Homo sapiens: one gene and its partners. The protein of the gene in region 1 purifies or fractionates together with the protein of each later gene. This does not show direct contact. Each region holds a gene or a part of one and is shown in the gene's direction. Other genes may lie near its edges. The genes, in order: RABGGTB, INPP5A, NRAS, PRKACB, PXN, CALCOCO1 and PPP1R16A.

Region 1 (3,165 bases):
AGATTCTGGCATTTATTAAGTCTTGCCAACATGAATGTGGTGGAATAAGTGCTAGTATCGGACATGATCCTCATCTTTTATACACTCTTAGTGCTGTCCAGGTAAATACTAATCAAAATTGCAACGATCTTGATAGTATGTTCTCTTACTTCAGAGTTGGAAATTGAAACTGTATCAGGATTTGGTCAAAAAGTTTTGTTACAAGTGAAGCTGTCCTACAAGGTCAATGATGTAATGGCATGTATTAGCTGAATCTAAAGTTGATGTGAGTTCTAAAATTACACTGAGACCTTGGAGGGTAAAATTTTTATCTTCAGTATGTGTAAATACTGTAAAATAGCTAAATGGAGCTATTTGATTTTGATATTAGTGAACATCTACCTGGTGGTTTAAAGTCTTTCTGGTACTACTGGGTGCTGAGATGGGAAGATCAGGACTTTGTGTGGATGTGAGTTAGTATACTTGAGTATCTTGGAATGCCAAGTTAAAATTTATATGTAGAAAATTATACTTTAAAGATTTGAGTTTTCTTGATACTATCTAATTTTATTCAATAACAGGAGAGTCTGCATATTTGAGAAAAGGTTATATACACAGAGACAAAAGGATGTGCTTGACAACTTAAAAAGAGTTGAGCATAAGATCATTAGAATAAACCTGAAAGGGACATTTACCTAATACTTGTCTTTATTGCAGATTCTTACGCTGTATGACAGTATTAATGTTATTGACGTAAATAAAGTTGTGGAATATGTTAAAGGTCTACAGAAAGAAGATGGTTCTTTTGCTGGAGATATTTGGGGTAATGTCAGATTTAGTCCATTCTACCCAAAATACCAATATTAAAATGTACTGGTTTTGCTAGTAACCAGTTTATAAGTTTTTCATCTTTTCAGGTCCCACTAAGCAGCTGGTCTAACTGGAGTTAATGGTCTGCTGGAACTTCCAGCATGCACTGTGGTAGTTATATCAGCATATACAGGAGCACTGGAACAGAGGGGGCCAGTCTAAAAGATAAGGTAGGTGGAATTTTTTTCCCCAATATTTGGTGGCTTTGTAAAGTTTTTTAAAAACTACTTGCTGGAAAGGGAAAAATATTTAAAAAAAAAAACTTTACAAACTTGCTGAATATTTGAGTGGAGGGAGGGAATAGAATTTTATTTGATAAACGTAGATAATCTCTGCTTTAGGGATGAACACAGTGCAGGCCAGAGAGACCAGCTGCTTCATGGGATGTGAAAAATCTACTTTTATAAAGTAGGGTAAGTTTATTTCATTATTAGAAATGGACTAATACTTTGGGTTCTATTAGTTTTCTTCTCTTTGGTTTTCTTCTCTTTCTGGGCTTTCTTTAAGCAGCTTAAGATAATTTGCTGTTACTTTTTTGTGGCAGGGTCTTGGCTCTGTCCAGGTTGGAGTGCAGTATTTTGGGAGACAGTTGCTGGGGCTGGAGAGCTCTGTTGCCCAGGCTGGAGTGCAGTGGTGCAATCTTGGCTCACTGCAACCTCCACCTCCCAAGCTCAAGCAATTCTCCTGCCTCAGCTTACAGAGTAGCTGAGATGTGCACCACAACACCTGGCTGGTTTTTGTGTTTTTAGTAGAGATGGGGTCCCCTGGCCTCATGTGATCCTCCTGCCTCGGCCACCAAAAGTGCTGGGATTTCAGGCCTGAGCCACAATGCCCAGCCCCACCTAATTTTTTTTAAAAAGTTTTTTGTAGAGATGGGGTCCCATTATGTTGCCTCGGCTAGTCTCAAACTCCTAGGCTCAAGTGATTCTCCCACCTCAGCCTCCCAAAATGTTGGAATTATAGGCAAGAGCTACTGTGCCTGGTCAATTTGCTGTTATTTTTGACAAAGGAATTTTCTTGGGAAGTAAAGGCACTTCAGATTTAGCTTTCCTCCTGACTACCCTAAAGTGAAAGTTAAGCTTGAACTCAATTTAAAGTGGTAGTTGTGCAGTGTTTGTTTTTAGATGACTCATGTATGATTTGGTAACACCTGCCTTGATTTGATCTATTTTTATTGTAGGAGAAATTGACACAAGATTCTCTTTTTGTGCGGTGGCAACTTTGGCTTTGTTGGTAAGCTTTGAATATTTGATTGAAATGATTAAAGTTCATGAATACTCTGGAATTTTTTTTTTTTTTGAGTCTGATCTGCTGAATACTCTGGAATTTAACAGGCATCTTTTTTTTTGTTTGTAGGGGAAGCTTGATGCTATTAATGTGGAAAAGGCAATCGAATTTGTTTTATCCTGTATGAACTTTGACGGTGGATTTGGTTGCAGACCAGGTTCTGAATCCCATGCTGGGCAGGTAATTTATGAATACAGATGAAAATGTATTGTCATTTTGGAAGCCAGTGTAGTAAAATAAGAAAATTGGTTATTTCAGTGTTTGTCAAATACACATAAAGTTAATTCGACTGTAATAGGGCATCTTACATAAGAATTGCTTAATTGCTATCATTACTTTGCTTTATATACTATATACCTTTCTCTGTCGGTGGATTCGTCTGACCTAAGCAAACATAAGTGGGTTTATAAGCACCAAAACACTTTTGTTTTCCATTAATTTTTCACTAACCATACAGATAAAAAAAAAAACAACACATTTTTCTTTCTTTCCTAAGATAAATTATGAACCTCTTTTCTTGTGCCAGAGAACACTGAATATGTGAATGGATGGCTGTGAAATACTAGCCATGAAGAAATTTTGACAATAATATTTCAGTGCAGAATTGCATACTAGTAATAGTATGCTTGGATTTTTTCAGATATGTGGTATTAATACATGTTTGGAATTTTAAGTGTCAGATCAAGAAGAAAAACTTAAGATATAAAGTGGTGTTTTAATAATTTGAGTTTTATCACTTTTAATGTCAAGAAATTATTATACACATAAACTTTATGTCTGTAATTTTAGATCTATTGTTGCACAGGATTTCTGGCAATTACAAGTCAGTTGCATCAAGTAAATTCTGATTTACTTGGCTGGTGGCTTTGTGAACGACAATTACCCTCAGGCGGGCTCAATGGAAGGCCGGAGAAGGTATTGTTTGATAAGCCATATTCTGCTAGCTTTAGAACCTTGAGTGAATGCTGCTGCTTTGTCTTGCCTGTTTCTATATTGTAAATTGGCCATGAGCTTATTTATTACCTTTCC
Region 2 (3,500 bases), on another chromosome or scaffold:
CGCCCAGTCTCACCGTGTTGGAAGCCAAGCTCGTCTGTGACCAGTGCTGGAGCCGGTCACAGTTCCGAGGAGGAAGGTGTTTGAATCTGAAGCAGATATCCCGGACTGTGGCGGACTCTGTTTTCCTTTTGTGCACAAGTGATAGGTGGTTTGCTTTTGCTTTTGCAGTTTTGAAAGTCTCCCCTCTTAAGGCCCCTCCTCCTCCCCCTCTTGTTTTTGTTTTAGACAGGGTCTCATTCTGTCGCCCAGGCTAGAGTGCTGTAGTGGTGCGGTCACAACTCACTGCAGCCTCGACCGCCCTGACTCAGGTGAACCTCAGCATCCTAAGTAGCTGGGACCACAGGCACATGCCACCATGCCTAGCTAATTTTTGTAGAGACCAGGTTTCGCCGTGTTGTCCGGGCTGGTCTGGAACTCCTGGGCCCAAGCAATCCACCTGCCTCGGCTTCCCAAAGTGCTGGGATTACAGGTGTGAGCCACTGTCCCTGGTCCAGAGGTCACCCCTCTCAAAACGCTGCGTGCATCCACTTCAGCTGTGGTTTGTAGCATCCTGGGATCCACACGGAATCTCACTCAGCAGCCCCTGTTTGCTCATCACTACTCCATCTTTGTGACCCCAGATTGGCCATGCTGCGGGCTGCGGGGCTGTCCCCACTGGGGTTGTGTCTGACCCTGTGCAGACAGTGTTGCGGTAAATGCCTTACAGTGTACCGGTCCCCAAGCCCTTATCCCTCACTTTCCTAGAAATTATGGAGGACCCGAAAGAGTTCTTGTTTATGTTGGTTATAACTACCAATATTTCTCATATTGGGAGCTGAGACTGCATGAGAATACATAGCTCACTGCACTAGCTGGCAGAGCGATTACATCATCCCACATCACAGGCACCCCCTCAGGTGTTGGCCGTTCTTCCCTAGGAGACAGTGAGAATGGAAAGAGGAGTCATTTTGTAGTATTATGGAAATAGTGTTGACCTAGTCAACCTGTGAAAAGGCCTCCTCAGCCCAGTCCTCCCTCCCCATACTGTCATGGGCACCCCTGTCTCTGGCCAGGTGGCTGGGGTGCCTGGGACTTTCCCAGGCTTATGCAGACTGCCAGATCACCCTCGGTGAGCCCTGCAGCTGGTCTTTAATTCCTGGATTGGACTCCTGCTGTCACTACTGGTTTGCTTGGAAAGAGGTGACCAGGGGTCCATATTTAATTGTTTTGCTTTGATGTGGCTGGTTTTTTGACAAGTGAGGTTTCTGGCTTTTGGTTCCTTCCATTTTTATGAGAAGGGAATTGAGGAGGTGAATTCTTGCCAGCTGTGGCGTCCCACCCTTGCATGGTCAGGCTGCTGTTTGGTCCTGAGAACACAGCCCGCTGGCGGGTATCTGCCTGGTGGCCCTTCCTGCTGCTTGTTCGCAGCTAAGTCAGTTCTGAGCCAGTTTGCCTTTTTGCTTAGTCAGCTCCCGGGCAGCCCTGTCCCTCTGCCCAGACCCGGGTTTGCAGAACGGCTGTGAGAGTGGGCTCGGCAAGTGCTCGCTGGCAGGGACCTGAGCACCTTGCAGTCAGCAGGTGTTGAAGAGCCCTGGAAGAGCGTGGAGGTGGCGGAGCTGCTGTGGGTATGGAGTCGGTGATGGTCAGTGGTGCAGGCTGGCGTCTCTCTCTGGTAGCATCAGCATTGCCTTCTTTGCCATGTGGTTCCTGGCAACACCAAAGGTACTGCCCTCTCTCCCACCTTGAAAACTCTGAACTCCATGTTTCCTCCAGCCACTGCGGGGCATCCTGACTCTCTACCGTGGCAGCCCTCGAGTGGGGTGGGGGGGTCTCCCCTCCATGTCCTTCTCCAGGCCTCTGCCCCAGCACTCCTGCACAGCAGGGCCCAGGGCTGGGTGCGGGTTGTACCCAGCTGGCAGTGACTAGCCAGAATTTTTGCTCCCTCTGTGGATCCTCCTTCTTCTTCAGGGACGTTTCACTTGGTAATGGCTGTGCTGGGACAGAATTCGCACACCATGCCCCTCACCCATTTCTTTTTCCTTTTCTTTTTTGTTTTCACACAGGGTCTCATTCTGTCACCCAGGCTGGAGTGCGGTGGCTCACTGTAGCCTTGAACTCCTGGGCTGAAGTGAGCTGAAGCCATCCTCCTGCCTCAGCCTTCTAAGTAGCTGGGACCACAGGTGCACGCTACCACACCCAGCTGATTTTTTTATTTTTATTTTTTGTAGAGATGGGGTCTTGCTGTGTTGCCCAGACTGGGCTCAAACTCCTGGGCTCAAGCAGTGCTCTCATCTCTGTCTCCCGGAGTGTTGGAATCACAGGTGTGGGCCCTCACACCCAGCCCTTTCTCCCATATGAGGTGTACAATTCACTGGTTTTCAGTATGTTCACAGGGTGTGCAGCTGTCACCACAGGCAATTGTAGAACATTTTTATCACCTCAAAAAGAAGCTGCATTAGCACCCAAGCCCCACGTCCCCCAGCCTCCCCACCCCCTGCAGTCAGTTTTCCTCTCTGTGGATTTGCCTGTCCCGGGCGTTTCACATACATGGGATCAGACGGTCTGCCCTTTGACCTGACTGCTTTCACTGAGCGTATGTAAAAGTGTCCATGCTGCAGCGTGCGTCAGTCCTGCATTTCTTCCTTTCTTTCTTTTTTCTTTTAAATTACAGAGACGGGGTCTTGCTGTTCACCCAGACTGGAATGCAATGGTGTGATCGCAGCTCACTGTAGCCTTGACCTCCTGGCTTCAAGTGATCCTCCTGCCTTAGCCTCCTGAATAACGGGGACTACAGGCATGCACCACTATGCCCAGCTAATTCTTTTTACTTTTTGAGAAGATGAGGTCTCACTATGCTGCCTAGGCTAGTCTCAAAGTCCTGGCTTCAAGTGATCCCCTGGCCTTGGCCTCCCAAAGTGCTGGGCTTACAGGCATGAGCCACAGTGCCAAGTCTCTTTATTCCTGTTTATGGCTGAATAATATTCCATTGTGTGGATACACCAAGTTTTGTTTCTGTGTTCATCAGCTGGTGGATGTTTGGCCTGTTCCCTCCTTCCGGTTCTGGTGAACAGTGGATGTTTGGCCTATTCCCACCTTTAAGTTCGGGTGAACAGTGGATGTTTGGGCTGTTCCCGCCTTCCGGTTCTGGTGAACAGTGCTGCTGTGTGCATCTTTGCAGGCGTCCCTAGGCGGACATGCGTTCTCAGTGCTGTTGGGTGTGCATAGTCTTGGCATTGCTGGGTGACGTGGTGAGTTCGTATTTAACCCTTGAGGGCCTGTCAGGCAGTCCATGGTGGCTGCCCCATGTCACATCCCTCCCAGGGTTCTGGTTTCTGCACCTCTCAGTGTTGGCGCCCCTGGGCTCAGGCTGGCCACCCTTCTCCCTTCCTGGGACCTCATCTAGACGCACAGCCATAAGTGCCATCTCTGTGTGGGTGCCCACTCCCAGCGAGAAGCGCACAACCAGGATGCTAGCCTGCAGTAGGTGGGGCCCTGCTCTGCCGCTCCGGCCAGAGCAGAGT
Region 3 (3,500 bases), about 39 Mb from region 1:
GATGATCTTTGTGTTCTGAATCTTTATGGGGAAATGAGGTTACCACACTAGGGAAGATAGAGCTTTTTAATTATGGGAAGAGTTGGTTTTAGGTTGTTTGACATTGAGAATCTAGGGTAATTACTGAAAGTTAATACTGGAATTTATTTTACATAATATACTGTTACTATAAAGTTTGATAATACATAAGTGAAGCTTGCTACTGGGAATGACTTGGAACCAGAGTTGTTGTAATTAGAGATCACGAAGGAATTTCAGAGAGGAAAACATCTCCAAGAAACATCTTTCAGTATGTAATGGAAAAGATAGGCCAGGCACAGTGGCTCACACCTGGAATGTCAGTGCTTTGGGAGGCCAAGGCGGGAGGATCACTTTCAGCCCAGGAGTTGGAGACCAGCCTGGGCAACAGAGCAAGACCCTGTCTCTACAAAAATAAAAATAAAAAAATTAGTCACACATGGTGGCAGCTACTCGGGAGGCAGAGGTGGGAGGATCACGTGAGCTCAGGAGGTCGAGGCATGCTCACTCCACTGCACTGCTGCACTCCAGCCTAATCAACAGAGCAAGATTCTGTCTCCAAAAAAAATAAAAAATAAAATGATAGGAGTAAGCAAATAGGAAGTCCATAAAGATGAAAACAAAGCAAGGGAACATAAAGATAGACTTTGTCCATAGAACCATAAAGTTTCAAAGCTAGATTGGACCATAAAAATTCTAGTACAATATTCTTATTTTGCAGAATCAGAAACAGAGTTCAGAATGTCGTTTGTTAGGTTTTGGAGTCAGGATTGTTATTAGTAGCAGAGCCAGGACCAAAAACCCAAAGCTCCTTTTTCTTAGCACAGTGTTCTTAAACAGAATAATATAATGGTTAAGAATGAGAACTCTGCCTGGATTGAAACCTAGCTCTGTTTATTAGCGACGTGACTCAGGGGCTATGTGGCTTTCCTAACCTATAATATGGAAATAATAATACCTACCTCATAGAGTTGTGAAGATTACAGTTTTAATAAATACGCAAATCACTCAGAATAGTGCCTGGCACACAGTAAATGCTACTTAAGTGTTCTGCCTAAAGGCTTGAGTCTTGGCTTATTTTCTATCCATGTGAAGATGTCTGCTCTCAAAAGCAGATTGGTCCAACACTGAATTCAAGTGTTCTTTTCCTAACCTGTTGTACTTCCCATTTTTTTTTTGTCTAAAAGTAATAGCAGTACTTAATAAAATGCCCACACTTGGCATGCATCTAATAAATGTTTTTTGAATTTCTAGAAGTCATTTTTCTTCTTTCTTACAAGAAATTTATTCATTTTTCTATATGCCTTAGCTCAAACCAAAGAGTATTTAAAACATCTTATGAAAATGCATATAGTAGAGCAAGATAAGATTAATGAAAAATAGGCTTAAGTGAGACCAAAAAAATAAGGGTAAAATAAACAAATTTAGGAGTGAGCATATTCTGTGATTGTGCATGAAGTTCCAGTGGCTTTCTAAAGGTGGACTACAAATTTGGTCACTGTTGTGAAAAGGAAAGTAGCCAGCTGAAAGATTCAGTATCTGTATGCTGAAAGCCGTTAAGTTGCTCGGACTAGAAGGAAATTTTCCCATGGATCCTCAAAGAGGCTTGTTTAATGTAAAAATCAGTAGTAACCTGACAGTGACATGGTCCAGGTACTTTAGGCTGTCTTATCCCTTAATGTAGGCTATTACCATCAAGCACAGTTTTGCAAATAGCCAGTGGAATGTAGTTCAGATACATGACTTTGTGGGTAATCCAGGGGTAGAGACTAAAACAGTACTGTGCAGTATGTGGTTATTTACAGTTAATTAAGATTAAATAAAATTTAAAAATTAGTTCCTTGACTACCAAATGCTCAATAGCCACTAGTAGGTACCATGTTGAACAGTACAGATATAGACCATTTCCATCATCACATAAAGTACTGTTGGATTGTGTTGGTCAAGACAATCTAAAGCAATTGTTTCCCAGGTGTGCTGTGTGGTGTGCCTTACATGTCATTGAAAGGGGTGCTGTCAGGAGTTCTAGATGCTTCAGCCTCCCTTTACTAAGAGCAGTTCTTATGTTTTCTATTTTATCGCTTGGGCTTCCAGATACAATGTTTTGTTTTAGGTTTGTTTTTTTTGTTTGTTTGTTTTTTTTTTTTTGAGACGGAGTTTTGCTCTGGTTGCCCAAGCTGGATGGAGTACGGTGGTGCGATCGCGGCTCACTGCAACCTCCGCCTCCCGGGTTCGAGAGATTCTCCTGCCTCAGCTTCCCGAGTAGCTGGAATTACAGGCGTCCACCACCATGCCTGACTAATTTTTTTTGTATTTTTAGTAGACTTGGGGTTTCACCATGTTGGCCGGGCTGGTTTCAAACTCCTGACCTCAGGTGATCCACCCGCCTCGGCCTCCCAGAGGGCTGGGATTACAGGTGTGAACCACCGTGCCCGGCCTGTTTTAGTTTTTTAGAGATGGAGTCTCCCTCTGTTGCCCAAGCCAGAGTGCGGTGGCATGACACTCTCAGGGTTCAACCTCTCAGGGATCAAGGGATCCTCCCACCTCAGCTTCCTGAGTAGCTGGAACCACAGGCACATGTGCCACCATGCCCAGCTAATTTTTGTATTTTTTGTAGAAGCAAGGTTTCACCATGTTGCCCAGGCTGGTCTCGGACTCCTAGGTCAAGTGATCCTCCCACCTCAATCTCCTAGAGTGCTAAGACTATAGGCGGGAGTCACCATGCCCAGCTTCATCTACAATTTATTTGAAGAAAATGTTTGAGCACCACCCATCTTGAAAAGTGATAGACTGCCTTCCATTAAATACTGTCACACCTAGTTATTTAGCAGCAGTGAGCTTCACTTTTTATACTTTAGACCTTAATCTAAAGGGTGATTTCTAGTTGCCAGTTAAATCCAGAGCCAAGCTCTTTGGAGAATCCAGGAGCCTCACTAGGTCATGTATCAGGATAAAATACCCATCCACTCCCATTAGAAGGTGAGCTTGTACTTATGGCTTCCTGATGGCTGCTGCAACAAGTCTAAAGCAGTCTCCTTAGTATACAATGTCTTCTCTAAGTGGTAGAAAAAAGCAAAAATACTACAAGTTAATAGGGCTACATAAAATTTGCTAGTTTCTTTTTTGCCCTAGCCATTTATTCCTTCCTGAAATCTTGTCTCTCTCTCGCTCTCTCTTTCTCTCGCTCTCACTTTCTTTCTCTTTTTCTTTTCTCTTTTCTTTTCTTTCTTCCCTTTCTTTTCTTTCTTTTTTCCTGTTGCCCAGGCTGGAGTGCAGTGGAACAATTATGGCTCACTGCAGCCTTGACCTTTCTGGACCCAGGTGATCCTCCCACCTCAGTCTCCCAATTAGCTGGGACTACAGGCATGCGCCACCACACCCAGCTATAATATATATTGTATATATATTTTTTATTTATAAATATATATAAATATATATTTATATGTGTAAATTATATATATTTATATATTATAAATTATATA
Region 4 (3,500 bases), 8.4 Mb from region 1:
GCTCGCACACGGTGCGTGCACCCACTGACCTGCGCCCACTGTCTGGCACTCCCTAGTGAGATGAACCTGGTACCTCAGATGGAAATGCAGAAATCACCCGTCTTCTGTGTCCCTCACGCTGGGAGCTGTAGACCGTACCTGTTCCTATTCGGCCATCTTGGCTTCTCCTCTTATCCCAGAAATTTCTTAAGTATTTTGTTGACCTGCATACTTCCTTGAATCAAAATGTTGAGGTTAATAGCTAACCTACTGCTTGCTGCTTCTTCTAGCACTATTATATTTTAGGAACCTAATGGCATCTAAGGATTTCACCGTGTAATAACAGTGGGAATTTATTTTTCTTGGTGTTTGGAAACTCTCAGGAATTTTTTTTTCCTTTTTCTTATTTTTCTCTCCCTCTCAATTATAGGTTGAAGCTCCATTCATACCAAAGTTTAGAGGCTCTGGAGATACCAGCAACTTTGATGACTATGAAGAAGAAGATATCCGTGTCTCTATAACAGAAAAATGTGCAAAAGAATTTGGTGAATTTTAAAGAGGAACAAGATGACATCTGAGCTCACACTCAGTGTTTGCACTCTGTTGAGAGATAAGGTAGAGCTGAGACCGTCCTTGTTGAAGCAGTTACCTAGTTCCTTCATTCCAACGACTGAGTGAGGTCTTTATTGCCATCATCCCGTGTGCGCACTCTGCATCCACCTATGTAACAAGGCACCGCTAAGCAAGCATTGTCTGTGCCATAACACAGTACTAGACCACTTTCTTACTTCTCTTTGGGTTGTCTTTCTCCTCTCCTATATCCATTTCTTCCTTTTCCAATTTCATTGGTTTTCTCTAAACAGTGCTCCATTTTATTTTGTTGGTGTTTCAGATGGGCAGTGTTATGGCTACGTGATATTTGAAGGGAAGGATAAGTGTTGCTTTCAGTAGTTATTGCCAATATTGTTGTTGGTCAATGGCTTGAAGATAAACTTTCTAATAATTATTATTTCTTTGAGTAGCTCAGACTTGGTTTTGCCAAAACTCTTGGTAATTTTTGAAGATAGACTGTCTTATCACCAAGGAAATTTATACAAATTAAGACTAACTTTCTTGGAATTCACTATTCTGGCAATAAATTTTGGTAGACTAATACAGTACAGCTAGACCCAGAAATTTGGAAGGCTGTAGATCAGAGGTTCTAGTTCCCTTTCCCTCCTTTTATATCCTCCTCTCCTTGAGTAATGAAGTGACCAGCCTGTGTAGTGTGACAAACGTGTCTCATTCAGCAGGAAAAACTAATGATATGGATCATCACCCAGATTCTCTCACTTGGTACCAGCATTTCTGTAGGTATTAGAGAAGAGTTCTAAGTTTTCTAAACCTTAACTGTTCCTTAAGGATTTTAGCCAGTATTTTAATAGAACATGATTAATGAAAGTGACAAATTTTAAATTTTCTCTAATAGTCCTCATCATAAACTTTTTAAAGGAAAATAAGCAAACTAAAAAGAACATTGGTTTAGATAAATACTTATACTTTGCAAAGTCAAAAATGGCTTGATTTTTGGAAACAATATAGAGGTATTCATATTTAAATGAGGGTTTACATTTGTTTTGTTTTGTAACCGTTAAAAAGAAGTTGTTTCCAGCTAATTATTGTGGTGTACTATATTTGTGAGCCTAGGGTAGGGGCACTGCTGCAACTTCTGCTTTCATCCCATGCCTCATCAATGAGGAAAGGGAACAAAGTGTATAAAACTGCCACAATTGTATTTTAATTTTGAGGTATGATATTTTCAGATATTTCATAATTTCTAACCTCTGTTCTCTCAGTAAACAGAATGTCTGATCGATCATGCAGATACAATGTTGGTATTTGAGAGGTTAGTTTTTTTCCTACACTTTTTTTTGCCAACTGACTTAACAACATTGCTGTCAGGTGGAAATTTCAAGCACTTTTGCACATTTAGTTCAGTGTTTGTTGAGAATCCATGGCTTAACCCACTTGTTTTGCTATTTTTTTCTTTGCTTTTAATTTTCCCCATCTGATTTTATCTCTGCGTTTCAGTGACCTACCTTAAAACAACACACGAGAAGAGTTAAACTGGGTTCATTTTAATGATCAATTTACCTGCATATAAAATTTATTTTTAATCAAGCTGATCTTAATGTATATAATCATTCTATTTGCTTTATTATCGGTGCAGGTAGGTCATTAACACCACTTCTTTTCATCTGTACCACACCCTGGTGAAACCTTTGAAGACATAAAAAAAACCTGTCTGAGATGTTCTTTCTACCAATCTATATGTCTTTCGGTTATCAAGTGTTTCTGCATGGTAATGTCATGTAAATGCTGATATTGATTTCACTGGTCCATCTATATTTAAAACGTGCAAGAAAAAAATAAAATACTCTGCTCTAGCAAGTTTTGTGTAACAAAGGCATATCGTCATGTTAATAAATTTAAAACATCATTCGTATAAAATATTTTAATTTTCTTGTATTTCATTTAGACCCAAGAACATGCTGACCAATGTGTTCTATATGTAAACTACAAATTCTATGGTAGCTTTGTTGTATATTATTGTAAAATTATTTTAATAAGTCATGGGGATGACAATTTGATTATTACAATTTAGTTTTCAGTAATCAAAAAGATTTCTATGAATTCTAAAAAATATTTTTTTCTATGAAATTACTAGTGCCCAGCTGTAGAATCTACCTTAGGTAGATGATCCCTAGACATACGTTGGTTTTGAGGGCTATTCAGCCATTCCATTTTACTCTCTATTTAAAGGCCGTGAGCAAGCTTGTCATGAGCAAATATGTCAAGGGAGTCAATTTCTGACCAATCAAGTACACTAAATTAGAATATTTTTAAAGTATGTAACATTCCCAGTTTCAGCCACAATTTAGCCAAGAATAAGATAAAAACTTGAATAAGAAGTAAGTAGCATAAATCAGTATTTAACCTAAAATTACATATTTGAAACAGAAGATATTATGTTATGCTCAGTAAATAATTAAGAGATGGCATTGTGTAAGAAGGAGCCCTAGACTGAAAGTCAAGACATCTGAATTTCAGGCTGGAAAACTATCAGTATGATCTCAGCCTCAGTTCTCTTGTCTGTAAAATGGAAGAACTGGATTAGGCAGTTTGTAAGATTCCTCCTAACTTTCACAGTCGATGACAAGATTGTCTTTTTATCTGATATTTTGAAGGGTATATTGCTTTGAAGTAAGTCTCAATAAGGCAATATATTTTAGGGCATCTTTCTTCTTATCTCTGACAGTGTTCTTAAAATTATTTGAATATCATAAGAGCCTTGGTGTCTGTCCTAATTCCTTTCTCACTCACCGATGCTGAATACCCAGTTGAATCAAACTGTCAACCTACCAAAAACGATATTGTGGCTTATGGGTATTGCTGTCTCATTCTTGGTATATTCTTGTGTTAACTGCCCATTGGCCTGAAAATACTCATTGTAAGCCTGAAAAAAAAAATCTTTCCCACTG
Region 5 (3,784 bases), on another chromosome or scaffold:
AATTGGGGGAGCAGGCAGGGGATCTCCTTCCTCCAGTCCAGTAGGTCCTGGGCCAGGGTTTGTACTGAGGCTGGGACAAACCAGGAGCAAGGTAGACATGTCCCCCAGTCCAGCCCTGTGCAGCGGCCCTGGGCCATTCCTATTTGGGAGGAGAGTGTGTGAGAACTAAATGAGATAATGCAAGTATTTAGCAGACTCAACAGAAATGGGCAGTGGTTTCCAAAACCACTGCATTCTGGGGGCCCCACAGGGGTTATTAATGATTCAACAAGGGCTCTCTGACCAAATGAGTTTGGGAAACACTGTTCCCTGCAGGACTTCTCAGAGCCTTTTCTTTTCTTTTCTTTTTTTGAGACGGAGTCTCACTCTGTTGCCCAGACTGGTGTGCAGTGGCACGATCTTGGCTGACTGCAACCTCTGCCTGCTGAGTTCCAGTGATTCTCCCGCCTCAGCCTCCCAAGTAGCTGAGATTACAGGCACACGCCCCCATGCCTGGCTAATTTTTTGTATTTTCAGTAGAGACGGGGTTTCACCATGTTGGCCAAGCTGGTCTTGAACTCCTGACCTCAGGTGATCCGCCTCCCTTGGCCTCCCAAAGTGCTGGGATTACAAGTGTGAGCCACCTCACCCGGCCCCTCTCAGAGCCTTTTCTACCTATATGTGATGTGAATCTCCAATGAGAATCTAGGAGGCAGAGTTTGACTACAGACCAGTGTCACACCTGTGTTTCTGGGAACACTGTTACAGCCACCTGGCTAAGTGCTCAGGAGTCAGACCTGTGTATGAATCCAGGCTGTGACCTCAGTAGCTGCATGACCCTGGGCAAGTTACTTCACCTGTGTGCTTCAGTTGCCTCCCCTGTTGGGAGAACTAAATAATCCCAGCCCTGTGGGAGGCCGAGGTGGGAGGATTGCAGGAGGCCACATTTGACCAGCATGGGCAATATAGTGAGACCCCCATCTCTACAAAAAAAATTTATTTAATAAAATAAAAATGAAAAATGAGCGTTTAGGACAACACGGCACATGGGAAACGCCTAGCAAGTAGGAGTCACTCCGAGCGTGCCGACTATGCCCACCTCGGCCCCATCACACAGGGTGCAGCTCTAGCCCGAGGGGCAGCTCCCTGAGCCCCTCTCTCCGCCTGGCAGGAATGCTTCACGCCATTCGTGAACGGCAGCTTCTTCGAGCACGACGGGCAGCCCTACTGTGAGGTGCACTACCACGAGCGGCGCGGCTCGCTGTGTTCTGGCTGCCAGAAGCCCATCACCGGCCGCTGCATCACCGCCATGGCCAAGAAGTTCCACCCCGAGCACTTCGTCTGTGCCTTCTGCCTCAAGCAGCTCAACAAGGGCACCTTCAAGGAGCAGAACGACAAGCCTTACTGTCAGAACTGCTTCCTCAAGCTCTTCTGCTAGGTGCCCTGCCCCTGTCTCTGCCCCCCTTCCCCAGCCAGCATCCCCAACTGCGACTGTGACCTAGAGACTTCACCCGGGGGTGAAGGGGTAAACCCGACTGAAACTGGAACCCTTGTCCTCCGCTGGTGCGGGATGGACAGAGGGCCGTGAGGGGTCCCCCTGCTTGTCTTCACCCCTGCCAGAGCCTCTGGGCCCCCTCCTCCCTCCTGTAGCTCTCCCTAGGCTGCCCACTCTCCATCCTCCCCAGGGGTAGAGGCTGGGGGCTCCACCCCAGCCCATGTACGTCCCCACGAACTGGCCTGGCCAGCACCCCACACTGGAGCCATCTCTTCCTCATATTTCAGCAGTGCAGCCGGGGGGCAGGGAAGGGCAGGCAGGGTCTGTTGGGGTCTCTTTTTATCCTTATTCCTCCCCCGACCTAATTGTCTTTGTTCTGTGATTATTGGGGGACACCCGGCTCCCTCCAGACAATGCCAGCATAAATCCATCCATCCAAAGGCAGAGAACCAAAGGGGCCATGGAAGGTTCTCTGTGCTCCTCCTACCCTTCCAGTGCCCTAGGCCTGGCGACTGCCCCTGCCTTTTAGACCCGCCCTCCCCTTTTATACCTGCTCTTGTTCTACTGAGAAAAGCCTCTCCAGCAATAATGTTTTCTAGTCACTTCCTCCGTCTCCGGGACGGCGTGCCTGGACACTGTACCGACTTTGATAGATTTCTACACTGAGGTTTGAATTCATATCGCCTGAGTTGCTTTTACTTCTCTATACAAAATGATTTTGAAGAGATTTTAAAGACGTTCCCTTTTGTATTCTCTTCCTCATCCACCGCCACTGGGCCTGTCACTGATGGTGGCTCTGGTGTGAAGTTTGCTTTGTACTGAGGGTTGGGGTGGGGAAGCAATTTGTATTTTATTGTTTCTTAGCACAAGCAGGTGAACTGGGAGCAGCTCTGTGACTCCCCCTCTTTCACTTCATAGCTCACCAGGACTGTTTTATAAACTGCTGTATTTGGAAACCCCTTCTTTACTTCCCAGGCCAGCAAGCTCTTCACTGAAACTGGTTGAAGGGTGTTGCACCCTTTTGGGCCTAGAATTCTGAACTTTATCTGTTCTGTTTCTGTGGGAGGAGAAGGGGAAGTATGTTTTGGGGGGCTGCTTCCTGTCTGAGTAAGCCCTCAGGAGCCTCTGCTCCCCTGTGAACCCACTGAACCTTCTGAGCCCCCACTGCTTCTATGGGGCTCTCTCTTCTGCCTTCTCAGGAAAGCTGGTGTCTGATTTTGGCCATCAGGACTCTGACGTCTCTTTGGTCTTGTTGATTTCCTCTGGGCATATCCCTTCCCCAGATCTGCTCCTCCCCTTTCACAGGTGGGATCGGCACTCAGGGGGTCTGGAAAGAAGGTCATAAGGGAGCATGATAGGATTTGGGGCAGAGGGACAGGCTCCTCTGGGGAAACCCCCCAGAGCTCTTTACCAAGGATGAAAGAGGAGCCAGGCCTTGGGCTCCTGATGAGGAGAAAGGGGCCCCACCGGGGTCTAATGGTGACAGTCCAAACCACTCCACTGGCCTCCTGGCAGAAGCCGAGTGTGCTGGGGTCTCCGAAGAGGGTCCCTCCTTTTTGGGGGAAGGTCAGCCCAGCCCCTCCAAAGGTCTGATGTCTCCACTTTCACCCGCAGGCCTTACCGCTCTGTTTATAGTGACCCACCCTAGATCTTCCCCAAGAGGGACTGGGGTTTCTGGGGTCCATTCTCTGAGTCAGTGGTTATTTGAAAATTTGATTTTGATTTTATTTTTTCTCTGTAAACTTCCAAGCTGGCTTTTCCCATTTCAATTCCTGTGATTTATGCCAATAAAGTTTGCCCATGATTTTCACCTGTGCTAGTGCTATTTCTTGGTGGTCTGAACCTCATGGTCCCAGCAGAGACCAAACCCACCCCAGATGCAGCTGGATCACCAGATGGAGGGTAAATTGTGGATGTTTCCTTTCTTGAGGTCAAAATCCCTGGGGCTGGGGTCCGTGGTCCTTGCCTGTGGTCACAGGTCCTCCCCGTGGGCTTTGCTCCTGCCTGGGCAGTTGGTGAGGACAGGCTGGGGAGCAGCGGGATGGGGCCCTGTGGGGCAGGGCCTGCCCAGGGTGTGATCACCTGGGTTTACCAAGGGCATCCTCACTCACGGGCTTGTGGGTGGCTTTCCACTCATTTAGAAGTAGGGAAAGAGGCTCTAGGACAAGAACCTACATGTACAAGGCAATCTGAGTGAGGGCAGAGCCATGATGCGGACCCAGGGCTTGCCTCTGCCTGTGTTCCTGCACAGAACCAGACGCGGCCGTGCCTGAGCCCACACAACGTGGGTTAGCCCCTTCCCTGCCGAAG
Region 6 (3,500 bases), on another chromosome or scaffold:
TAGAAACAGAAGGAACTTCAGAGGGCATCTAGTCCCCTGTCCTACCCAAAGAAGGAAAAATGGGGGAGTAAGGAAGAGGGAAAGGTAGAATTATGTGGTGAGAAGAGGGAAAGACCTGGGTTCAAATCTCACCTCTAACACTTACAAGCTGTTTGGCCTTGGGCAAATTACATAACCTCCCTGTGTCGGTTATCTTAACAGTAAAAGGGGATGCCTGGCTTATAGGGACATTACGAGGATTTAAAATGAAAGCTGCAGGCCAGGCGTGGTGGTGCATGCCTGTAGTCCCAGCTACTCACAAGGCTGAGGCAGGAGAATCTCTTGAACCCGGGAGGCAGAGGTTGCAACAAGCCAAGATCGCGCCACTGCACTCCAGCCTGGGCGATGGAGCAAGACTCTGTCTCAAGATAAAATAAAATAAAAAGTGTTACCACAGTGTCTGGTACATGGTACGCACTCACTACATGGTAACTAGCATTATTATGATTATGATAGAGGGGCAGTGGGTTTGGGAAAGAAAGGAAGGAGAGGGACAGGCAGAAAGGAGGGAGAAGAGTATGGCCTGTGGGAGGTGGAGAAGAGAAGAAACAGTATATGGAACACCGAGCAAGGGGCTGGGGCCAAGGACAGTGGATTATTGGGGTCCTGGGTCCATTCTTCTTCCCACAGCCAGCTACCTGCCCAAACCAGGAGCTCAGCTCTACCAGTTCCGATATGTGAACCGCCAGGGCCAGGTGTGTGGGCAGAGCCCCCCTTTCCAGTTCCGAGAGCCAAGGCCCATGGATGAACTGGTGACCCTGGAGGAGGCTGATGGGGGCTCTGACATCCTGCTGGTTGTCCCCAAGGCAACTGTGTTACAGGTGAGAAAAGAGCAACAGAGTTATTCCCAGACAAGGGAGTGGGAGACAGCATTGCAAGAGGACCCTTCCCACCTTACCCTCCCCTCATCTGTGGCGCCAACTAAAGACCTCGTTGAAAGTTAGACAAAGTCCTGCCTCCAGGAGAGTCTCAGTCTAACATAGACATACACGAACATGTAAGGCAGGAAAGGAGACCACCCACAGGCCAGTGTAACTCAGGATTTCATAAGAACTTTTGCAGCCTTCCTTCTCCATGCACTGCATCCTGCCCTATGCCCTAGAGGAAGATCAAAGGGTGGAGAGAGGCTACTCCAGGGAACATTCAGAGAAAGGGGAGCACAGGACCTGCTTCTAGGACGAGTGGGGAGTGAGAGCAGATAGGCAAGGCCCCAGACCTGTACTGTCCAATACCAAAGGCTCTTAACTATATATGGCTCTTGAGCACTTCAAATGCAATTAATCCAAACTGAGATGTACTATAAGGGTAAAATATACTCCAGATTTTGAAGACTTAGTATTTTTTAAAGAGAATGTAAAAGACTTCAATAATTTTTATTTTGACTACATGTTGAAATGATACTGTTTGGGGTTTTTTTGTTTGTTTTTTGGGTTTTTCTTTTCTTTTCTTTTCTTTTTTTTTTTTTTTTTTGAGACAGCCTTGCTCTGTCACCCAGGAAGATGTTTATATCTCACGTAAGTGAAAGATGTGTGAGCTCCTACTCTCTGTTGCGGTTTCACAATCGTGATTCTCATTTGAGCCTTACAACAATTCAGACTAAGGGATCATGTTACAGATGAGGACACAGAGACTTAGAGAAGTTAAGAAGCTTGTTCAAAATCACATAGCTAGCTGGGTGTAGTGGCATGCATCTGTAGTCCCAGCTACTGGGGGAGACACTGAGGTGGAAGGATGGCTTGAGGCCAGGAGTTTGAGGTATGGTATGCTATGGTTGCACCTATGGCTAGCCACTGCACTCCAGCCTGGGCAACACAGTGAGACCCTATCTTTAAAAAAAATCACATAGCTAGTAAAAATTGCACTGAAGATTTGAACCCAAGTCTGTCCAACTCCAGAGCAGATAGGGTAAAATTAGGGGACCCATCCCTTGTGTCTGTGTTCATTGACTTGTGCCACATGAGGGATTCCTGCAATTGCTGGATGAGGAAAGGGCCAGGCCTAGAGTGGGGAGGGGTAAGAGAGATGGGCAATTCAGAGTGCCATGAGCTGGTGCATCTGACTGGGTGGTGGACGGGATTCGGTAGCACACTGAGCATCCCCTTCCTCACCTCTTTATAACCCAAAGCTATGTAACTTCCCAAACCCAAAATGCACCTGGAGAGTGGTGAGGATGGGACCTTAGAAGGGGTACTCCACCAGCACACTCCCCTTCTCCTTCTGCTGCCTGTAGAACCAGCTCGATGAGAGCCAGCAAGAACGGAATGACCTGATGCAGCTGAAGCTACAGCTGGAGGGACAGGTGACAGAGCTGAGGAGCCGAGTGCAGGAGCTCGAGAGGGCTCTGGCAACTGCCAGGCAGGAGCACACGGAGCTGATGGAACAGTACAAGGTGGGAGCTGGGCCAGGTAGGGGACAGGGCCTGGCTGCTCACCCAGCATCCAAAATCTGAACCCAGTGAAGAGGGTGAAGGAGAGATGTTAGTGGGCTTTTACAATGGTTCTGGCATCAAGGAAATAGGTTTAAGGGGTAGTGGCTGGGATTAAACTTGATGTGACAAGAGACATGTTCCAAACGTGTAATGAGACTCAGTTCTTTGAACATAGGAATGCTGGGGTAAGGTGGAGGTGGCCACGTTGATAGGTAAGGGAATGTTCCCTTACAGTTTCTTTTTCAAGGAAGGCAATGTGATAGCCAGGTGGAAGCAGTCAGACCCTGGTGTGCTCTTCCTAAGCCTTTGTTCCACCACTTGAGAGATGAGTCCCAACCTCCCTTTTCTTCTGGGGGAAACTTAATTTCAGGGGATTTCCCGGTCCCATGGGGAGATCACAGAAGAGAGGGACATCCTGAGCCGGCAACAGGGAGACCATGTGGCACGCATCCTGGAGCTAGAGGATGACATCCAGACCATCAGTGAGAAAGTGCTGACGAAGGAAGTGGAGCTGGACAGGTGAGGGGAGTCCACTGACCCCGTCACTTCCTCTCCCTTCCATGACCCCCGCACTCCAGCCCCCTCTCTCAGGCAAGCAGACCTGCTGTCTGCCTCACACGCTTTCTCTTTCCCTCTCACCCTCACTCAAGCTAGTTACTGGGGATACCCTTTTCTGCCGAGCTCTCTACCATCTTTCCAAATGCTATTCTGTATTCCTCCACTTCAGAAATAATCATAGTTACCACTTATTGTACAGCAAAAGCTGAGCAAGAGCTAGGAGTGGAGGATTTGGAAGAAGAGAATGGATGGAAGTCAGTGCAAGATAAGAGAGGATGGATTTCAGATGTGGCCACAGGAAAGATAAGATTAGACTGTGTTCTTACTATTAAGAAACATTATAACTGGTGATCCAGGAATGTTATGGAATCTCTGCCCTGGAAAAAAAAGATGCAAATCATAAACTCTTAGCACTGGGATTGTAAGATATGTATGAGGGTATGTAAGAGGTCACCCTCAGGAGGCAGCCTCTTTA
Region 7 (3,500 bases), on another chromosome or scaffold:
CTGGCCAGTGTGTGCTTGCCCTGGCCTCTGCGGTCTACAGAGCTGGCCAGGCTTAGGAGCAGGCTGCTCGGAGGGAGAGTTACTGCCTGGAAAAGCTCTTTACTTGGCAGGCAGAAAGCCAGGTCAGGGCCACTGGCCTTATTGGCCGTGTCCTCAGGAAGCCTCTGAGGCTAGGCCTACAGGGGGGGACTATGTCTAGAGTAGGCTGAACCTGTAAAGTGGGGCTCCCAGATAAATTGGGGGCCCCTGAGCAGGAAGGACCTGACTGGCTTAATTTGACCTGGCCCAGGACAGTTCCCTTTCTGAAAGAAGGGGGCATTCTATGAAACACCTGGGTAGAAGTCCAGCAGTGAAGAGTTGGGTCAGTGTGTAGATGGCCATGAGGCCTGGCTGGGTGGAGAATAGGACTCCTGGCAGGCATCTTCTGCAGAGCACGGAGTGCCTTCTTTCTTTTCTTTCTTCCTTTCTTTCTTTCTCGGAGTCTCGCTCTGTCACCCAGGCTGGAGTGCAGTGGCGTGATCTTGGCTCATTGCAAGCTCTGCCTCCCTGGTTCACGCCATTCTCCTGCCTCAGCCTCCCGAGTAGCTGGGACTACAGGCACGTGCCACCACGCCCAGCTATTTTTTTTGTATTTTTAGCAGAGATGGGGTTTCACCCTGTTAGCTAGGATGGTCTCGATCTCCTGACCTCGTGATCCACCCGCCTTGGCCTCCCAAAGTGCTGGGATTACAGGCCTGAGCCACCGCGCCTGGCCAAGCACAGAGTGCCTTCTGAGGTGAGGCCTGTGGCCAGCCCAGCAACCACACTTAGTGTGTCGGGCAGGACTAGGGCCATAGCAGGTACATAGGCAGGGTTGTGCCCCAGCCGAAGCTGTCTGCCTGCCTGTCTGTCCCCATAGGCCTCAAGCCAGGCACCAGGTGGGGGCTTTTATTGCAGCCTAGGATGGCAGAGGCATTGTGGGAGCCCATCAAGGAAGAGGTCTAGAGACTGGGCAGTGAGAGGCTGGGGTATCAGTCAGGACAGGAGGAGGCGGGGCCTACCCTTGGAAGGCAGGAGAGGTGGAGGCCCAGGAGGCGGGGCCTGCCCTTGGAAGGCAGTAGCCTGCAAAGCCCTCAAGGCTGTTCCACGAGACCTCACCCTGCCCAGCCTTAGGGCAGCGCCTGGCCCTGGAGGAGCAGCCTAGCAGGGAACGCCTCGCTGGGGTGGGCGGCCCTTTCTGGAAAGGGTGGGTGGGAGGAGCCTGACATGCCTTTCCCCCGCCCCTCTCTGAACCTGGGGCAGAATGGGGGCAGAGTAGCTCCCCGTACCCCCAGGACTGTTGACCTGCAGTGCTCTCTGTGGACAAAGGGTGGGCCTCACACAGGGCAGGACCTGAGACAGCTGGAAGCCTGGTCTCACCTGAGGCCCAGGGCAGGGGCTCCCCCGGGCCACCCTGCCTCAAGCCGGCCTTGATATGCTTCCTTGTTCCCCACTTCTCAGGTGTGAGCAGCTGCTGGAAGAGGAGGTGCTCCTGAAGACACTGCGGCCGGCCCGCCTGTGCCCTTGGTGCCCTGGCTGCCTAGAGAGCCTCACCCCTGGGCCCTGGGGCCAGGACTCCAGGACTCTGACTACCTGCCCTCCCCCAGCCTCAGCGGCTGCACCTCCTCGTTAGTACTGATGCACTGACCTCGGCACACAGCTGGGAGGGGTTGGGGGCTGGGTCATGGCTGCTCCCAGGCCCCACCCAGGCTCCTGAGCCTAGAAGGTGAAAAGAGGACTCTCAGGGGCTCACAGGGGCTCTCACTGCTGGTTGGCCCTGCCCTCCCTTCCCCCTCAGCAGGGTGCCCGGAAGCTGGAACCTTGTTATCTGGGTAATTAGTTTCAGACCCTGCACTGAGGCCGGCCAGGTCTCGGGGCTGCCTCCCATAGGTTGTGCACCCTGACCCCGAGAGGGAGGCGAGGCGCTGCTTGTCGACAGCTAGAGGCTGGCCTGGGGAGCAGGTTTGGGGTGCCCTCCCACACTGCCCTCCCTGCCCCGGCCCATGCCCCCCAGGGCTGCCTGGGCCTGGTTATTGTGTGGGGCCTCCTGACCCAGCCAAGGGCACGAAGCTCTGGGAAGGGGATGCCCCCGAGGGTGCCAGTCCAGCTAGCTGCCCCACCCCTCAGGCCCAGCCTGGCCCCCAAGCTCCCCACTCTGGTGCCCCGAGCAGCCCTGTGGGCAAGCAGCCGCCGCCATGGCCGAGCACCTGGAGCTGCTGGCAGAGATGCCCATGGTGGGCAGGATGAGCACACAGGAGCGGCTGAAGCATGCCCAGAAGCGGCGCGCCCAGCAGGTGAAGATGTGGGCCCAGGCTGAGAAGGAGGCCCAGGGCAAGAAGGGTCCTGGGGAGCGTCCCCGGAAGGAGGCAGCCAGCCAAGGGCTCCTGAAGCAGGTCCTCTTCCCTCCCAGTGTTGTCCTTCTGGAGGCCGCTGCCCGAAATGACCTGGAAGAAGGTGAGTGTGGCTGAGCCCAGAGCAGCTCCCAGCAGACGGCCCACTCCCTGCTACCTGGGTGCCGTCTCATGCCAAGGCTGGGGGCTGGGCCTGTCCACAGCTCCTGGGCTCCAGCCCCCAGATCTTGCCTGGTCTCTTCAGGCTGGGTGGCCCAGGGTGCCCCCATCAGGCAAGCCCCAAGCAGTGGGCAGCCCTGAGGTGAGCCTGTGCGGGACAGCCGTCCTTCAGGCGGGGGCTGCATGCAGAGGGCTCCTGCTGTGAGGTGAGCTGAGGCCATGAGTGGACCCCCAGGAGCCTGCAGAAAAACCTAGTGCGGGGCCCCACGGGAGCAGGGGTGGCCGGTAGTCATTGCTGCTTCTTGTTAGGCTGCTCAGGAGAGCCCTGGTCTCCACCTCCGTGAAATAGGGTGGGACCAGCCACCTCTGTGGGTGAGAGAGCCAGGCCCTGGGCAGGCACAGAGCTATGCAGGTGGCCCCCTCTCAGTGCCTGCCCTAGGCTCTGCTTGTGACTCTCTTCTCCTCACCTGTGCCCCACGCTTGCAGCCCCAGCTGTGTGGGTTCCACTTCTGGTGCTCTGGAGTCTTGGGGGAAGAGGCACTGTGGTGGCCCTTGAGACTCCTTCCTGCCTCCCTCCGGAGCAGAGAGTAAAGAGGAGCCGGCAGTGTCTGGCCTGCATCTTTCCATGTGGACAGGAGCCCTCCCGGGAGGCCTGGAGGCAGAGGGAAGAGGCGGAGGGTGCCATGGTCCACAGGGAGCTGTGGGAAGGTGGGAGCCCTCCTGCTGCACCCCAGGCACCGTCAGGGAGAACCCTGGTGACCTGGGCGAGAGCTGGGCCCGAGTTGGGATCTTTGATGGGGAGGGGAGTGAGAGCAGGGATGTGCTCTGGTGGTGGGGAGCCTCAGGTCAGGTCCCAGAGGACCCAGGAGAGCTCATGAACACAGGGCTGGCAGGTTGTCAGGGAAGAGCCGAAGGAGCTGTGGTAGCCTCCAGGCAGGGAGCTCTTCCTGGGCTGGAGGGAGGTGTGGGATT

What was found.
Region 2: the proteins of RABGGTB (region 1) and INPP5A purify together in Homo sapiens (affinity purification with mass spectrometry; 4 studies listed by BioGRID and IntAct, with this or other methods). This does not show direct contact.
Region 3: the proteins of RABGGTB (region 1) and NRAS purify together in Homo sapiens (affinity purification with mass spectrometry; 3 studies listed by BioGRID and IntAct, with this or other methods). This does not show direct contact.
Region 4: the proteins of RABGGTB (region 1) and PRKACB purify together in Homo sapiens (affinity purification with mass spectrometry; 3 studies listed by BioGRID and IntAct, with this or other methods). This does not show direct contact.
Region 5: the proteins of RABGGTB (region 1) and PXN purify together in Homo sapiens (affinity purification with mass spectrometry; 4 studies listed by BioGRID and IntAct, with this or other methods). This does not show direct contact.
Region 6: the proteins of RABGGTB (region 1) and CALCOCO1 purify together in Homo sapiens (affinity purification with mass spectrometry; 3 studies listed by BioGRID and IntAct, with this or other methods). This does not show direct contact.
Region 7: the proteins of RABGGTB (region 1) and PPP1R16A purify together in Homo sapiens (affinity purification with mass spectrometry; 3 studies listed by BioGRID and IntAct, with this or other methods). This does not show direct contact.

Annotation. Positions count from the first base shown.
Region 1 is NC_000001.11:75,789,256-75,792,420, forward strand, and holds part of RABGGTB (geranylgeranyl transferase type-2 subunit beta), read left to right. Parts: coding exon 1-101; intron 102-221; exon of another isoform or gene 222-292; intron 293-696; coding exon 697-802; intron 803-896; exon of another isoform or gene 897-1,019; intron 1,020-1,190; exon of another isoform or gene 1,191-1,262; intron 1,263-2,029; coding exon 2,030-2,082; intron 2,083-2,205; coding exon 2,206-2,316; intron 2,317-2,925; coding exon 2,926-3,051; intron 3,052-3,165. UniProt on the Homo sapiens protein: Catalyzes the transfer of a geranylgeranyl moiety from geranylgeranyl diphosphate to both cysteines of Rab proteins with the C-terminal sequence -XXCC, -XCXC and -CCXX, such as RAB1A, RAB3A, RAB5A and RAB7A.
Region 2 is NC_000010.11:132,540,787-132,544,286, forward strand, and holds part of INPP5A (inositol polyphosphate-5-phosphatase A), read left to right. Parts: intron 1-3,500. UniProt on the Homo sapiens protein: Phosphatase that specifically hydrolyzes the 5-phosphate of inositol 1,4,5-trisphosphate to inositol 1,4-bisphosphate, and inositol 1,3,4,5-tetrasphosphate to inositol 1,3,4-trisphosphate. Plays a crucial role in the survival of cerebellar Purkinje cells.
Region 3 is NC_000001.11:114,710,272-114,713,771, reverse strand, and holds part of NRAS (GTPase NRas), read left to right. Parts: intron 1-3,500. UniProt on the Homo sapiens protein: Ras proteins bind GDP/GTP and possess intrinsic GTPase activity.
Region 4 is NC_000001.11:84,234,771-84,238,270, forward strand, and holds part of PRKACB (cAMP-dependent protein kinase catalytic subunit beta), read left to right. Parts: intron 1-409; coding exon 410-535; 3' UTR 536-3,500. UniProt on the Homo sapiens protein: Mediates cAMP-dependent signaling triggered by receptor binding to GPCRs.
Region 5 is NC_000012.12:120,209,947-120,213,730, reverse strand, and holds the end of PXN (paxillin), read left to right. Parts: intron 1-902; exon of another isoform or gene 903-1,096; coding exon of another isoform or gene 1,097-1,129; exon of another isoform or gene 1,130-1,150; coding exon 1,151-1,417; 3' UTR 1,418-3,284; downstream 3,285-3,784. UniProt on the Homo sapiens protein: Cytoskeletal protein involved in actin-membrane attachment at sites of cell adhesion to the extracellular matrix (focal adhesion). Recruits other proteins such as TRIM15 to focal adhesion.
Region 6 is NC_000012.12:53,720,953-53,724,452, reverse strand, and holds part of CALCOCO1 (calcium-binding and coiled-coil domain-containing protein 1), read left to right. Parts: intron 1-669; coding exon 670-860; intron 861-2,269; coding exon 2,270-2,428; intron 2,429-2,837; coding exon 2,838-2,986; intron 2,987-3,500. UniProt on the Homo sapiens protein: Functions as a coactivator for aryl hydrocarbon and nuclear receptors (NR). Recruited to promoters through its contact with the N-terminal basic helix-loop-helix-Per-Arnt-Sim (PAS) domain of transcription factors or coactivators, such as NCOA2.
Region 7 is NC_000008.11:144,494,982-144,498,481, forward strand, and holds part of PPP1R16A (protein phosphatase 1 regulatory subunit 16A), read left to right. Parts: exon of another isoform or gene 1-1,479; 5' UTR 1,480-2,213; coding exon 2,214-2,472; intron 2,473-2,995; exon of another isoform or gene 2,996-3,014; coding exon of another isoform or gene 3,015-3,236; exon of another isoform or gene 3,237-3,500. UniProt on the Homo sapiens protein: Inhibits protein phosphatase 1 activity toward phosphorylase, myosin light chain and myosin substrates.